Regions from separate parts of the Homo sapiens genome. Here region 2 is linked to region 1. The links come from fine-mapping of genetic effects on gene expression. Tissue or cell type: whole blood. Region 1 holds a variant in brackets; the other region holds the start of a gene. All regions are shown on one strand. Distances are between the middles of the regions.

What was found. PIP is the estimated chance that this variant, and not a neighbour inherited with it, causes the effect.
Region 2: it holds the start of NEXN, and the variant in region 1 is fine-mapped to the expression of NEXN in whole blood (INTERVAL, PIP above 0.99).

What each region holds. Positions count from the first base shown.
Region 1 is chr1:77,908,679-77,917,033 of GRCh38, reverse strand. It overlaps NEXN (nexilin F-actin binding protein), which reads right to left. Exons shown (of 13, transcript NM_144573.4): 2 at 901-979. The coding sequence starts at 927. Among named protein-coding and RNA genes, the nearest start is that of NEXN-AS1, 23 kb to the right of the region's middle. RefSeq lists a silencer at 7,588-7,741. The variant TATAA/A (reference allele first, on the strand shown) is at 5,291.
Region 2 is chr1:77,884,128-77,892,127 of GRCh38, reverse strand. NEXN (nexilin F-actin binding protein) reads right to left here and starts at 3,504. Exons shown (of 13, transcript NM_144573.4): 1 at 3,369-3,504. It overlaps NEXN-AS1 (NEXN antisense RNA 1), which reads left to right and starts at 2,589. Exons shown (of 3, transcript NR_103535.1): 1 at 2,589-2,660; 2 at 2,860-4,528. RefSeq lists a silencer at 3,120-3,259 and an enhancer at 3,500-3,559.

The DNA of each region.
Region 1 (8,355 bases):
GGCTGAGGTACACCGTGGTCTGTGTGCACAAGCTGTGATTTATGTTGTTACTATTACTTCCCATCTATAACTTCTTTAAGCCACATTAAAAATGTGTAAGAAGGCTATATCATTCTATATGGGGGCGGGCTGTAAGAGGAATTCCATATGGCAACAGCTTCACAAAGAATGGGAATCTGGTAGAAGACTGAAGAAATGATTTTCCTCCACTCTAAAACCAGAAGAGCAAATTATTTTCACCACTTTGAAAATTAAGCTGATTTCTAAATGAAATTTCAGTAAATAAAATGTGTGCCTCAGAACACCAAATCCTTTTTCCTAGTGATAATGACAATTACTTAATTAATTTGTGGCACATCCAACTTGTATTTTATAATCTATTATGTGTCATTGGCCATTTAAGGGTTAACTTTATAATTCTGAGGTGTCAGCAACTGAGCTCTTCTTACAACTCTCAGTATCTACAGTCAAGAACCAGAAGAAAGCTAAAAATTAAAATATATATATAAGGCACTAAAAAGGTTCCTTACCTAAGAGGGAATTATGTTTTCTCCTATGAGTATAGGTCAAACTTTGTTTTAATACTAAAATAATAATTTCTAAGAGTTATCAAGAACAAAATATTTAAAATTCTACTCAGAATGCTAGCTATCACATCCACTTCACTATCATTCACAAATTTACTACTCATGCTTTGTAGAATTTCCTAGAACCCAAATGAAAATACTAGCCCAAGACCAGCTGGTGAATTGTATCTCTTCTTGTTTTACATCTTGCCATTATGTTATTAATTATGAACTCCTAAATATGACCTTTCCACCAAATGACTGTCCTTTCAGCAATTCTACAGTCAACTCTACATTTCCCTCTTTTATTTTTATTTTTACTTTTGAGACTTACCTCAGCCTTTTGGGAAATATCATTCATGTTTGCTCTATGTGGTCTTGGGCTGATTATGAAGCTCTGTATATATTTGCACCTGAAAAAAATTTATATTGTATAATAAATTTTAATTTATTTGTAATATATTATGTATTTTTATAAATAGAAATAGCAGTTAATTGCCCCTCAAAAAATACTGACATGATTCAAGCAAGTAATAAATTGTGATAACCTTTAGCTCTTTTTCCCAAGATTCATGGTATAGAAAACATAAGGTGCATGATGGTAAAAGATCCCTGAAAGTTTTTGATCCAGAATAGCTTGATGAACATACTAAGTTCACTTGAAAAGAATGTGTATTCAGCAATTACTGAGTGTATTACTCTATAAATATTAACTAGCTGAAGGTAGTTGATCATGTTTTAGATCTGTATTTTTACTAATTTTTGGCTATTTCTATCAATCTTCAACTATGTAGTTTTTTGTTTGCTTGTTTTGTTTTGTTTTGTTTTTGTTTTTGTTTTGAGATGAAATCTCACTCTGTCGCCCAGGCTGGAGTGCAGTGGCGCCATCTCGCTCACTGCAAGCTCTGCCTCCCGGGTTCACACCATTCTCCCACTTCAGCCTCCCGAGTAGCTGGGACTACAGGCGTGTGCCGCCACGTCCGGCTAATTTTTTGTATTTTTAGTAGAGACGGGGTTTCACCGTGTTAGCCAGGATGGTCTCAATCTCCTGACCTCGTGATCCGCCTGCCTCGGCCTCCCAAAGTGCTGGGATTACAGGCATGAGCCACCATGCCCGGCCACCAGCTTTCTTTTTATTTATACATTTATTTTTTAGAGACAGCATCTCGCTGTGTCACCCAGGCTGAAGTACAGTGGCACAATGACAGTTCACTGTACCCTTGAACTCCTGGGCTCAAGCGATCCTCCTTCCTCAGCCTCCCAAGTAGCTGGGACTACAGGCATGCAGCACTATGCCCAGCTCTTTTTTTTTTCTCTATAGAAATGGGGTCTCACTGTGTTGTTTAGACTGGTTTTGAAACCCTGGGCTCAAGCAACTCTCCCACCTTGGCCTCCAGAAGTGCTAGGATTGCATCCGTGAGCCACTGCATCTGGCCCCCAACTTTCTTAGGTTTACAGTTTGCATGGTATATAATTTTCTAGCTATTTACTTTCACTCTATCTATGTTTTTATATGTAAAGCATATGTCTTGGACACAGCATATGTTTGGACCTTGCTTTTTACAAAAATCAATTCTGATAAAATCTGGGTTTTCTTTTTTTTTTTTTTTGAGACGTAGTTTCGCTCTTGTTGCCCAGGCTGGAGTGCAGTGGCATGATCTCGGCTCACTGCAACCTCCGCCTTCCAGTTTCAAGCGATTCTCCTGCCTCAGCCTCCTGAGTAGCTGGGATTACAGGCTCCCACCACCACACCCAGCTAATTTTTGTATTTTTAGTAGAGATGGGGTTTCACCATGTTGGCTAGGCTGGTCTCGAACTCCTGACCTTGTGATCCACCCACCTAGGCCTCCCAAAGTGCTGGGATTACAGGCGTGAGCCACCGTGCCAGGCCTAAAATCTGTTTTTTTAATTGCAGCATTTAGTTCATTAACATTTAATGTAATTATTAATATCAATGAGTTTAGGCCTATCATTTAAATATTTATTTTAGGTTTGTTTTATCTTGTTTTGTTTTTTTCTTTTGGAATTTTCTAGCCAACTTTTTTTTTAATAGAGTTTATTTTAGGTTCACAGCAAAATTGAGTAGAAGATAGAGATTTCCTGTATATGTTCTGTCCCTGCACATGCTTAGTCACCCCCATTATCAACACTGGATAACCCCATTATTACCACCTATTGGAGTGGTACATTTGTTATAAATGATGAACCTATACTGACACATCATTATCACCCAGAGTCCATAGTTTACATTAGGGTTTACTCCTGAGTTGTACATTCTGTGGGTTTTGGGTAAATGTACAATGACATGTGTCCATCATTACAGTATTGCACAGAGCAGTTTCACTGACCTAAAAGTCCTCTTTACTCCACTTACTTATGCTTTTCTCCCCCATAATTCCTGGTAACCATGATCTTTTTACTGTCTTCATAGTTTTGACTTTTCCAGAATGTCATACAGTTGGAACCACACAGTATGTAGCCTTTTCATATTGACTTTTTTCACATAGTTATGTGCATTTCAGTTTCCTCTATGTTTTTCATGGCTTGATAGCTCATTTCTTTTTAGCACTGAATAATATTCTATTACCTGCATGTACCACAGTTTATCCATTCACCTACCAAATGACATCTTGGTTGTTTCCAAGTTTTGGTGTTTATGAATAAAGTTGACATAAATATCTGTATGCAGGTTCTTGTGGACCATGATTACTGGATTATATGGTAAGAGCATATTTAGTATTATAAGAAACCACCATGTAGCTTACCACTTTGCATTCCCACCAGCAATGAATGAGAGTTCATATTGCTCCATATCCTCACCTGCATTTGATGTTGTCAGTGTTCTGAATTTTGGCCATTCTAATAGATGTGGAGTGGTATTTCATTGTCATTTTTATTTGCATTTCCTTGAATATATATTAAATGAATAAATATTAAATTAGAATTATATTAAATAATATATTAAAGCACCTTTTCATATGTTTATTTGCCATCTGTATCTTCTTCAGTGAGATGTCTCCTAAGATCTTTGTTTGGTCCATTTTTTTTTTTTTGAGATGGAGTCTTGCACTGTCACCCAGGCTAGAGAGCAGTGGCATGATCTCGGCTCACTGCAACCTCCGCCTCCCGGGTTCAAGCAATTCTCCTGTCTCAGCCTCCCGAGCAGCTGGGACTACAGGCACCTGCCACCACACCCGGCTAATTTTTGTATTTGTAGTAGAGATGGGGTTTCGCTATATTGGTCAGGCTGGTCTCAAACTCCTGACCTCAGGTGATCCGCCCACCTCGGCCTCCCAAAGTGCTGGGATTGCAGGCGTGAGCCACTGTCCCCAGCCCTTTGGTCCATTTTTTAATTGGGTTGTTTGTATTCTTATTACAGAGTTGTAAGAGTTCTTTGTGTATTTTGGATAACAGTCCTTTATCTGATATGTCACTTGCAAATATTTTCTCCAAGTCTATGGCTTATTTTTTAATTCTTTTCACAGTGTCTTTTGCAGAACAGAATTTTTTAATTTTAATGAAGTCCAGCTTATCAATTCTTTCTTTCATGAATTGTGACTTTGGTATCATAGCTAAAAAGTGAACTCCAAATCTGAGGTCATCTAGATTTCTGTCTATGTTTTCTTCTAGGAGTTTTATAGTTCTATGCTGTAAGTCTGTGATTCATTTTGAGTTAATTTTTGTGAAGAATGTAAGGTCTATTTCTAGATTCAGTTTTTTGCAAGTGGATGTCCAGTTGTTCCAGCACCATTTGTTGAAAATAATCTTTTCTCTATTTTATTGCCTTTGCTCCTTTGTCAAAGATCAGTTGATTATATTTACGTGGATCTATTTCTGGGCTCTCTATTCGGTTTCATTGATCTTTTTGTTTATTATTTCACCAACACTGCACTGTATCAATTACTGTAGGTTTATAGTATGTCTTAAAGTTGAGTAGTGTTAGTCCTCCAGCTTTGTTCTTCTCCTTCAACACTGTGTTGGCTATTCCAAGTCTTTTCCCTTTTCATATAAACTTTAGAATCAGTTTGTCAATATCCACAAAATAATATGCTGGGATTTTGATTGGGATTGCATTGAATCTGTAGATGGATCTAGGGAGAATTAATATCTTAATAATGTTAAGTCTTCTGATCCATGAACACAGTATGTCCCCCCCATTATATACATATTCTATAATTTCTCAGAAATGTTTTGTAGTTTTCAATGTGCAGATCTTCCACATCTTTTGTCAGTTATCCCTAAATAATTTCATAGTTGTTTATACTACTGTAAATGGTGTTGTTTTTTAGATTTAAATTAATGATTGTTGCTAGTACATGTTGAGTATCCCTTATCTGAAATGCTTGGGACTAGAAATGTTTCAGATTTCAGATTTTTTTTTTTTTTTTTGAGACAGAGTCTCACTCTGTCGCCCAGACTGGAGTGCAATGGTGCAATCTCGGCTCACTGCAACCTCTGCCTCCCGGGTTCAAGCAATTCTCCTGCCTCAGCCTCCTGAGTAGCTGGGACTACAGGTGCGTGCCACCACATCCAGCTAATTTTTGTATTTTTAGTAGAGACGGGGTTTCACCATGTTGGTCAGGCTGGTCTCAACTCCTGCCTTGTGATCCGCCTGCCTCAGCCTCCCAAAGTGCTGGGATTACAAGCATGAGCCACCGTGCCTGGCCTCAGATTTCAGATCTTTTTTGGATTTTGGAATATATGTGTATATATATATATATATA[TATAA/A]AACAGGCTATCTTGGGGATAGGACCCAAGTCTAAACATGAAATTCATTTATGTTCCATATACACCTTATACATATAGCCTGAAGGTAGTTTTATAGAATATTTTAAATAACTTTTGCATGAAGCAAAGTTGTTTTGTTTTGTTTTTGAGATGGAGTCTTGCTCTTGTCGCCCAGGCTGGAGTGCAATGGTGCAATCTCGGCTCACTGCAACCTCCACCTCCTGGGTTCAAGCGATTCTCCTGCCTCAGCCTCCCAAGTAGCTGGGATTACAGGTGTCCGCCACTATGCCTGGCTAATTTTTGTATTTTTAGTAGAGACAGGGTTTCACCATGTTGGCCAGGCTGGTCTCGAACTCCTGACCTCAGGTAATCCACCTGTCTTGGCCTCTGAAAGTGTTGGGATTACAGGCGTGAGCCATTTTGCCCGGCCAAAGCAAAGTTTTGACTATGTTTTGACTGATCTGTCACATGAGGCCAAGTGTGGAATTTTCCACTTGTGACGTCATGTCAGTACTCCAAAGGTTTCAGATTTTGGAGCATTTGGATTTTAGATTTTCAGATTAGGGATATTCAACCTGCATACAGAAGTATAATTTTGGGGCCAGGCGCTGTATCTCATTCCTTTAATCCAAACCAACACTTTGGAAGGCTGAGGCAGGGGGGTTGCTTGAGGCCAGGAGTTCAAGAACAACCTGGGCAACATAGTAGACCCCATCTCTACAAAAAATTTAAAAATTAGCCAGGCCTGGTGGTGTGTGTCTGTAGTTTTGGCCACTTGGGAAACAGAGGCAGGAGGATCTCTTGAGCCCAGGAACTCAAAGTTACTGTAAGCTATGATCATATCACCATACTCCAGCCTGGGTGACAGAGTGAGTCCCTATTTCTAAAAGAAAAAAAATTAAAATTAAAAAATACAGTTTTTGTATTCTGGTTTTATATCTTGCAACCCTGCTAAAATAACTTATTAGTTTTTTTTTTTTTTTTTTTTTTTGAGACAGTCTCACTCTGTCACCCAGGCTGGAGTGCAATGGCACAGTCTCAGCTCACTGCAACCTCCACCTCTCGGGTTCAAGTGATTCTACTGCCTCAGCCTCCCGAGTAGCTGGGACTACAGGCGCGACCGACGACACCCAGCTAATTTTTGTATTTTTAGTAGAGACAGGGTTTCACTATGTTGGCCAGGCTGATCTCGAAGTCCTGACCTCGTGATCCGCCTGCCTTGGCCTCCCAAAATGCTGGGATTACAGGCGTTAGCCACCGAGCCCAGCCTAATAACTTATTAGTTCTATTGGCTTTTTCATAGATTCCATCAGATTTTCTACATACATAGATGATCACATCATCGGTGAGCACAGTTCTACTTTTTCCTTTCCAGTCTGGATGCCTTTCATTTCTTTTTCTGGCTTTACTGTACTAGCTAGAACCTCCAGTACAATGTTAGATAGAAGTGGTAAGAGCAGATATCTTTGTCTTGTTCCTGATCTTAGGAGAAATATGTCCAGTCTTTCACTGTTAAGTAAGATGTTAGCTGTAGGCTTTTCTTAGATGCCGTTTATCAGACTAAGTTTACTGGAGTAATTATCAGTAACAGATGTTGGATTTTATCTAATGCTTTTTCTGTGTCTATTGAGATAATCATATGGCTTTCATTTTTAATTTATTAATATTGTGAGTTACATTAACTGATTTTCAAGTGTTAAATCAACCTTAACATTCCTAGGATAATTCCCAATTGGTTATAATGCATTATCCTCTTAATATATTGCTGGAATCAATTTGATAAAATTTTGTTAAGTTTTGTATCTGTATTTATGATAAATTATTGGTTGTGTAAGTTATCTTTTCTTGTGATGTCCGCTTTTATTAACAGAGTAATATTGTCTTTATAGAATGAGTTGGGAATTATTTCTTTAGTTTTCTGGAAGAGTTCATGTAGGATTTAGTATTATTTTTTCCCTAAATATTTGCAAGAACTCCCCAGTGAAGCCATGTGGGACTGAAGTTTTCTTTATGGGAAGGAGACAATATAATGGGGGAGAGGATGGGACATGATTCCCTGTAATTATTAATAAGATCCTAACTTTTCTTGTTTAGTGGGTCTGTCGGTGCTTATGACATTATTAAAAATAAAGGAGTAAATTAAAGGAATCCATCTATACATGAGTGTGTCATGAACTAAGGTTTATGAGTAACCTAATTTTATGTGCCTGAGATAAAAATAATAAATAGCACTAGTCCTGTTGTCTTACTTGAGCCATTATATCATATCTAAAGTTACCTGTTAGATATTTTATTAATTTATTTATTTATTTATTTATTGAGATGAAGTTTTGCCCTTGTTGCCCAGGCTGGAGTGCAATGGTGTGATCTTGGCTCATTGCAACTTCTGTCTCCCGGGTTCAAGCGATTCTTCTGCCTCAGCCTCCCAAGTAGCTGGGATTACAGGCATGCCCCACTACGCCCAGCTAATTTTGTATTTTTAGTAGAGACAGGGTTTCACCATGTTGATTAGGCTGGTCTTGAACTCCTGACTTCAAGTGATCCACCCGCCTTCGCCTCCCAAAGTTTTGGGATTACAGGCATGAGCCACCATGCCTGGCCTGATATTTCTTCTTATATAACCAACAAAACCTACCCTTCATTCTCATGGCTTCTCAAACCTTGCAGTTATTTTTGATTCATTCTTCTATATCTCCTAGATTTTAATAGATTGTCAAGATTTATGAATGTTGCTTTCAAACTTCTCTTACATATTACTTCATATTTCCACGGCCTCCATACTAATACAGACCTTCAATCACCTCACATTTAGATTACCAAAATTTGGTAATCAGACCTAAATCCAAATTTCAAATCTGTTAACTGCTTAGTTAGGATTAGCTGAGAGCATTATATGAAGAACCCTGGAATAATAACTAACATTAGTAGATATCAATAACTTTGATTAATTTTATTACTATTCATCTCCCCTACTAGAATTTACTCTATTTAGGAAAAAACCTATCTTTCCCTGCCAGTGAGCATATATAATGTATTACTTACACAATTGTGGTGGCTCATG
Region 2 (8,000 bases), 25 kb after region 1:
CAATTTTTAAGTATGTCTGTGGCTAAAAGTGTCTTTTTTTTTTTTGACACAGAGCCTCACTCTGTTGCTTAGGCTGGAGTGCAGTGGTACAAGCACGGTGCACTGCAGCCTCAGCCTCCTGAGCTCAAGCAATCCTCCTGCCTCGGCCTCCCAGGTAGTTGGGACTACAGGCATGCACCACCACATCTGGCTAATTTTTAAATTTTTTGTAGAGATGGGGGTGGGTCTCACTATGTTGCCAGGCCTGGTCCTGAACTCCTGGGCTCAAGGGATCCTCTCGCCTCAGCCTCCCAAAGTGCTTGGATTACAGGCATGAGCCACCACACCCAGCCCCAAAAGTGTCTTTTTTGTTTTTGATTTTTTTTTTTTTTTTTTTTTTTACTTTTTTTCCACACTTGGTAATCAGGAAGTAAAAGGTGTCTTTTTGACTGTCGACTTTTTGACTGCCATAGCCTTAGTCTAAATGAATAGACAACACTGACAAAATGGAAAGGGTCAAAGGGGAGGCCTATTTTGGCCAGAAAGAGTGAAGGGGAAGAAAAGACAGGGAAGAGGCCCAGGATGGACGGTGAGAAGTGAATTTCACCAACCTTGAAACCTCATATAGGGAGCCCCAATCTGCTTGTCTTCTAATCTAAGAGTAAAAAGGAAGAGATGTCAAGAAGGAAATAAAGGAGGAAGAAAAAGAATCACCTGTTGAGCACTTACTGGATGGCAGACACTGCATGGGATGCTTTCACATGTTGTTTTATTGAGATATGTCAATGCAAAAAGAAAGAGTTCTATGCATGGGAAAAAGACTTAAAGGAAATACATCAAAATCCTAACAGTAAGAGTGTCAGATTACAAGAGCCCCTTTTTCCATTCTCCATAATTTTTAACCATAAATATAACATGGTGTATTAACATTATAATACAAATTAAACTAAAATTTAAGGTGGATTTCTGGGTACAAATCCACCCACCCTGGAGTATAGAAAGTAAACTACTATAAATTAAGCCAAACTATACACTGAATATTTAAATAATAAAGGAAAATGTAGCCATTTCAAATGTATATAATATGTAACTATGCAATTATAAACCCAGAAAGAGAACATGAAAGAAACTACACAGGTGATATGGACCGCAGATTGATTAAATAAGAACAGAAATATGTGAAATTGTTAAGAATGTTATAAATCATTTTCTCTCCAAATTATAAACTACCAAGATGTTCTGTGTGTGTGTGGCCTACATAACTATAAAATAACAGTCCTCTCTTCTATAAAAACGTTTAGACTTTTACCTGTCTGTTACATACTTTTCCACATTCACTGCATTATTTTCTTTCTTTTAGGTGTGCACAACTCTCATATTTAAATAATCCCCCTTTTTTTTGTCTTTTAGGGTATTTCAAAGATAACAGGTATTTTTTTTAATAAATGAAGTATGTCATTATAGGCCGCTCAGATTCTAAGCAATCTGAATCCCCAATTAATGTCTTCCAAATATGCATATTTAGTTTTTATTCTGCTCAAAAATGAAACCCTAACCTAAATACTTCAAGTGAAATTTCAGGGGAAAAAGACTGTTCAAAAACCTAGATAATGCATTCCTTTGTTGATGCTAAATATAGTCATCTCAAGATGACATACATTTTGACAATGATCAGCCTTACATGTCAAATTTTCAAAAATAGCACAAATTCCATTTTAAGGTGAGCAGGAACAATTGCTATTCATTACATTTCAATTGAAAATGGATTTTAAAATATGAATCTTTTATTAAAACTGGATTACATTGTAACTATGATGAGGAAAACTGGATTTAAAATAATTTTGTTGTGGTTTTAGCTTAGAATTCTTTAAGGGAATTGCAGATAAACTACATAATTGCATGCATTTTTCTTTAAATTGTTCCTCAGAAGCATTAGTCAAAATATAAAATATCTGCAAAAATACGGTGTTAATTGTAAGGAAGAAGAAACTTAAACAGCTACATTGGTTAATCAAAGTTTACTTATACAAATTATACCTCCCCCCAAAAAACCTTTCTCTCATTTGATTAATTATGCATTTTTTCTTAACAATACCCCAAACTCAAAAGAATTTGAGACAAAGTTTTCTAACTGCAGCAGTTTAACCTGTAAAGGATAATGTTTAGCGGGGGAAATTATGTGGTCCACTCAATAACGTGTGACTAAGATATAAATAACGTGTGACTAAGATATGAACTTAAGTATAAATACTTAAGTTTATTTAATCACATTACCTAAGACATAGTTATGTTGTGACTCGAAGGCCAATGGGCCGCTGCTACATGAATTCATTAACAAAATTTAACGATGAATGATATTCCCGTTGTTTTGGTCAGGGAACTAATTTCTTTATTATGGCTTCTTTTCTCTACCTGTGTCTTCACCAAGGACATTTTGTTAGGACATATCCTTATGCTATTTTTACCTTGTTATCTCTCTGCCAACTTGGTTCACGTTGTGCTTTAATAACTATAAAATGAGCATCTCTAAGTCACTGCAGTAACCAACTATAACCTCTCAACTTCGTCATTTTCTTTATAAATGCCAATGCTAATGCATTTGTAGAACGTTTCACAATTTACAAACAGCTGGAATGGTTTGGCGTTTTCAAAAGCATATAGGCAAAGGGAGTTCTCAAGAGGTGACTACATTCTTCACTCACTTAAACTACGTAAACTTCGTAAACTTCCAGCCCTAGTTGCTCAACCCCCAGCATCCCACCTCGGGCAGAATCACGAAAAAAAAAAAAAAAAGGGTTGGAGACAGGAGTGGGGGGATATGCGGGGGTGTGGGGGGGGAGTAATAGGCTGTTAAATCATATTTCTCCCCATCTTCCACAGAGACCGATCAGAAAGGATTTCTTAACTGGCACTGCTGGCAGAGACGGAGACCGCGGCTGGGGCAAGTGGTGGGGGACGGCACTGAACTTCCCTAAGGACCCCAAGGGTTCAGCCGAGGGATCGGCACCCACTCCGCTCACAGAGGGCTCCCTCCCTACAGTAGGGAACGCACCCGAAACTCAGCCGACAAGGCGCAGGGGAGCAGGGCAAAGACATTGCAACCAGAAGCCCAAGGCCGGCCGACACTTTCAGACCCTGGGGCAGCCCCTGGTAGGCACCCCGCCGAGCCCGCAGGATGCGGCTCCAAGGCAGGGTTCGCCCGGGCCGGGGCCAGCGCGGACCACAGCTGTATGGCGCCCGGCGCCCTCCGGAGCTGCAGCGGAGCACGGCCAGAAGCCGCAGACCCCGAGCGCCTCTCTGCAGCCGCCGTTCCCGCCCCCGCCCCCACCAGGGGACCCGACACCTCCGTCTCCACTCCCCCCAGCCCACGTTCCCCCAACTCTTCTCACCCTGCAGGAGCCGGTGACCGGCGAAGGTACTTCTTTCCGCGTGGAGGGACTGTGCGCGTCCCGCCTGGCTGTGGGTAGGGGTCTGGGAGCTCTGGCCGCTAACACTTCTGCTCCAGCCGCTGGGAGTCCTCTGGCTGCCGCTGCCGCCGCCGCCGCCGCCGTCTCCAGCAGCAAGTTTCCATAAAAGTCCTGGTGTGCAGCCTGTTCCCGCATTCCAGGCGGGCCCAGCGCCGGCTGCAGCTGTTCCAAAACACAAGGCCAGTTCCCCCAACCCCCCACCTCCGCCGTTATCACCCGGAGTGGGGGTGGAGAGTTGAGGAGAAAAGCAGGGGAGGGGGACCGTGGCTGCCAACTTTCCGCCAGAATTTGTCTGTCTCCCGGCCCTAGGTGCGCGAGCTGACCCCCTAACTTTGGGCCTGCCTCCACCTCCAGCCAGGCCTGGGGAAGGAAGGCTGCCTCCGCCATGGGAAAGGAATGAGGCTGAAATGGGCTTCATTACCGGGCTGAAGCTGGCTCCCCCTACCCGCAACCAGTTTGCTCTGGGGCCCACTTCTCTCAGCTACTCTACCCGTCCTAGTTTCCAGTCAAGAAGCCAAGCCACTACATATCTTCTACTACCCTAAGCATTGACCTTTGGCCAAGTTTTCCTTTATTACAAAGAGCGTGGGGCAGCAATCCGGGAACACTTCATCTGTCTATTGCTCCCCTGTTCTTAGCTCCAGTCTTTAACTCTAAAAGGAGAGTTAAAAAAGAAGAAGAAGAAGAAGAAGAAGAAGAAGAAGAAGAAGAAGAAGAAGAAGAAGAAGAAGAAGAAGAAGAAGAAGAAGAAGAAGAAGAAGAAGAAGAAAGTTGAAGGCAGAGGAGGAGGAGGAGAAGAAAAGAAGGAATATATTTATATAAGTACAAATATCTTTATATTCCACCTTTTTCTTAATTGAAGGCAAACCATATCTGGTCTTTCTAAAGCTTCATAAAGGCATCTTTGACTATTAGACACCCACAGACCTTTTTCAACTTGGACCGCCAGCCTGTCAAACCCATCAGACAATACCATATTAAAACCCGAAATGCACACTCGGAGTATTTTTGGTGGACGAGATCTTTAATTCTTCACTGCACTTGAAAAAAAAATCGAAATGACATCCAGATAAAGAATAAAGGTAACCACTTCCACCTTCAGGCCCTAAGCAGACAGCGGTGCTCAGGTTATATTTCAGGGATGTTGAAAAGGCCTTCTGGGCTGGGCGCGGTGGCTCATGCCTGTGATCCCCGCACTTTGGGAGGCCGAGGCGGGTGGATCACTTGAGGTCAGGAATTCAAGACCAGCCTGACCAACATGGCAAAAGGCCGTCTTTACTAAAAATACAAAAAATTAGCCTAGTGTGGAGGCACACACCTGTAATCTGAGTTACTCAGGAGGCTGAGGCAGGAGAATCACTTGAAGCCAGGAGGCGGAGGTTGCAGTGAGCAGAGATCATCCCACTGCACTCCAGTCTGGGTGACAAAATGAGACTCTGTCTCCAAAAAAAAAAAAAAAGGCCGGGCGCGGTGGCTCCTGCCTGTAATCCCAGCACTTTGGGAGGCCAAGGCGGGTGGATCACCTGAGGTCAGGAGTTTGCGACCAGCCTGGCCAACATGGTGAAACTCTATCTCTACTAAAAATGCAAAAAATTAGCCGGGCGTGGTGACGTGCGCCTGTGATCCCAGCTACCTGGGAGGCTGAGGTTGAAGAACCCACTTCGCTTGAACCCGGGAGGCTGAGGTTGCTGTGAGCTGAGATGGCGCCATTGCACTCCAGCGTGAGCAACAAGAGTGAAACTCCCTCTCTCTCTCTGTTTCTCTCTCTCTCACACCCGTACACACAAAAGGCCTTCTACTCAAATATAACTCTGTTCCCCAGTCCCATCCCCACAGTATTTACTCAGGATGGAAACTTTTCTAAGGAGGGTAAGCCATTCATTCCTCGATTACAGAAAAGTTCAAAATTGGTAATTAAAATTATTTAAATGTACCGAACTACGGATAGTGATAGGTGGTCTTGGTAGTCTTGCTTGTGCCCTTGCTCTCTTTGATGCCATCACCTTGGCCTTCTTCAGTTCATGAAACTTTCTATGGGCAGTCTGGCTGCAGGGCCTTTGTATAAGTTGTTCCCTGCATGAAATCCTTTCTCCCACTTTCCCCTTCACCTAACTTCAACATATCCTCCCGATCTCTTCTTAAATGCTGCTTCCTCGGAGAAGGCTTCCTTGCATCCCACCTTTCTCCCCACCTTGCACCTCACCTTTCATCCCACCTTTCTCTTCCCTATATATATATATTCCTATTTATTTGCTTATTTATTTATTTATTTATTTATTTATTTATTTATTTATTTGGAGATGTAGTCTCGCTCCGTCGCCCAGGCTGGAGTGCAGTGGCACGATCTCAGCTCACTGCAACCTCCGCTTCCCCAGTTCAATCGATTCTCCTGACTCAAAAGTAGCTGGGATTACAGGCGCGTGCCACCACACCTGGCTACTTTTTGTATTTTTAGTGGAGATGGGGTTTCACCATGTTGGCCAGGCTGGTCTTGAACTCCTGCCCTCAAGTGATCCACCCACCTCGGCCTCGCAAAGTGCTGGGATTACAGGTGTGAGCCACTGTGCCCTGCCCCTATACATATCAATTTATAATTACATATTTATTTCTGTGATTTAAAGAAGTGAGTTGGCTGAGCATGGTGTCTCACGCCTGTAATCCCAGCACTTTGGGAGGCTGAAGCGGGTGGATCACTTGAGGTCAGGAGTTCGAGACCAGCCTGGCCAACATGGCGAAATCCTGTCTCTACTAAAAATATAAAAATTAGCTGAGTGTGGTAGCGTGCACCTGTAGTCCCAGCTACTCGGGAGGCTGAGGCAGGAGAATTGCTTGAAACCAGGAGGTGGAGGTTGCAGTGAGCCGAGATCATGCCACTGCACTCCAGTCTGGGCGACAGAGTGAGACTCTGTCTCAAAAAATAATAAATAAATAAATAACTAGAAACTTAACAATTTTTTATTTTTATATCCACCCAATAGATTCACCAGATTAAACAAAGCTCTCCATTCTCTCTGTAGAACACTGATAGCTACTCACAGCATGCAAGGCCTGCTTATTTTCCCACCAATTCATCATTCATTCATTCAACAGATATTCAGTTCTATATGCTAAGGATACAGCAGTGATAAAGGAAAAATCCCTGCCATTATGGAACATACATTCTAGTGAAAGAAGGCAGACAATAAGCAAATAAGTGAACTATGTAGTATTTAGTGACATGTAATATGGCAATATGGATAATACCAGAGCAGGGAAGTAGAGAATGCTGGAGGCAGGCTGAGTAGATGTTGTAATTTTAGATAGAGTGGCTAAGGAAAGCCTCATATGAGTAAAAGCCTTGAGGAGAGTGAGGCAGTAGGCTATGTAAATATCTGGAGAAGCAAATATTTGGAGGAAGAGTGGTCCAGGGATAGATACAAAGGCCCAGAGAAGGATTCTATCTGACATGTTCTAGGAAGAACCAGGAGGCTTGTGCGAGTGAAGCTGAGTAGGTGAAGGGTGAGGTAATAGGAGGTGCAGTGGGGAGCAGGAGACAAGACTACGTAGGATTTTGTTTGTTTGAGAATAAGTCTCGCTCTGTCGCCCAGGCTGGAGTGCAGTAGCATAAACTCTGCTCACTGCAACCTCCGCCTCCTGGGTTCAAGCGATTCTCTTCCCTCAGACTCCCGAGTAGCTGGGATTACAGGCACCTGTCACCATGCCCGGCTAATTTCTGTATTTTTAGTAGAGATGGGGTTTCACCATATTGGCCAGGCTGGTCTCAAACTCCTGACCTCAGGTGATCCGTCTACCTCGGCCTCCTAAAGTGTTGGGATTACAGGCGTAAACCAACATGCCTGGCCTTTTTTTTTTTTTTTAGAGACCCAGGCTGGAGTGCAGTGGTGGAATCACAGCTCACCGCAGCCTCTAACTTCTGGGCTCAAGCGATCCTCCTGCCACAGCTTCTCTGAGTAGCTGGGACTACAGGCATGCAACAACACACCTGGCTAATTTTTTAGTTTTTGTAGAAATGGGGTCTTATTATGTTGCCTGGGTTGGTCTCAAACTCCTGGGCTTAAGCATCCTCCCACTTCGGCCTCCCAGAGAGTAGGGATAATAGGCATGAGCCATTGTGCCCAGCCTCTTTTTGTACAGCATTGTAAAGATTTTGGTTTTTACTCTAACATGGGTGGTCTCTGGTAGGTTTTGAACAACATAGTGACATGATCTGACATGTTTACTCTCTCTAGCTTAAGTGCTGCACATACACCAAATGAGGCAAGAGAAGAAGCAGGGAGATCAATTAATTAGGAGGCTTCCACAATAATCGGAATGAGGAATGGGGATTTGGGCCAAAGTGATAGTTGTGAAGGTAGTGAGAAATACCTGGCATATTTTTTTTTCCTTGTTGCCTTTTTAGGTAGAAATGGTAGGATTTTTTTTTTTTTTTTTTTTGTAACTGAATGTGAGGTGTGAGGAAAGGAGGTTTTGGGCCTTTGATCTGGAAGAATGGAGTTGTAATTTACTCAGATAGGGAAGGTTGTGGGAAGAGGAGGTTTAGGCAGGGGTGGTAAG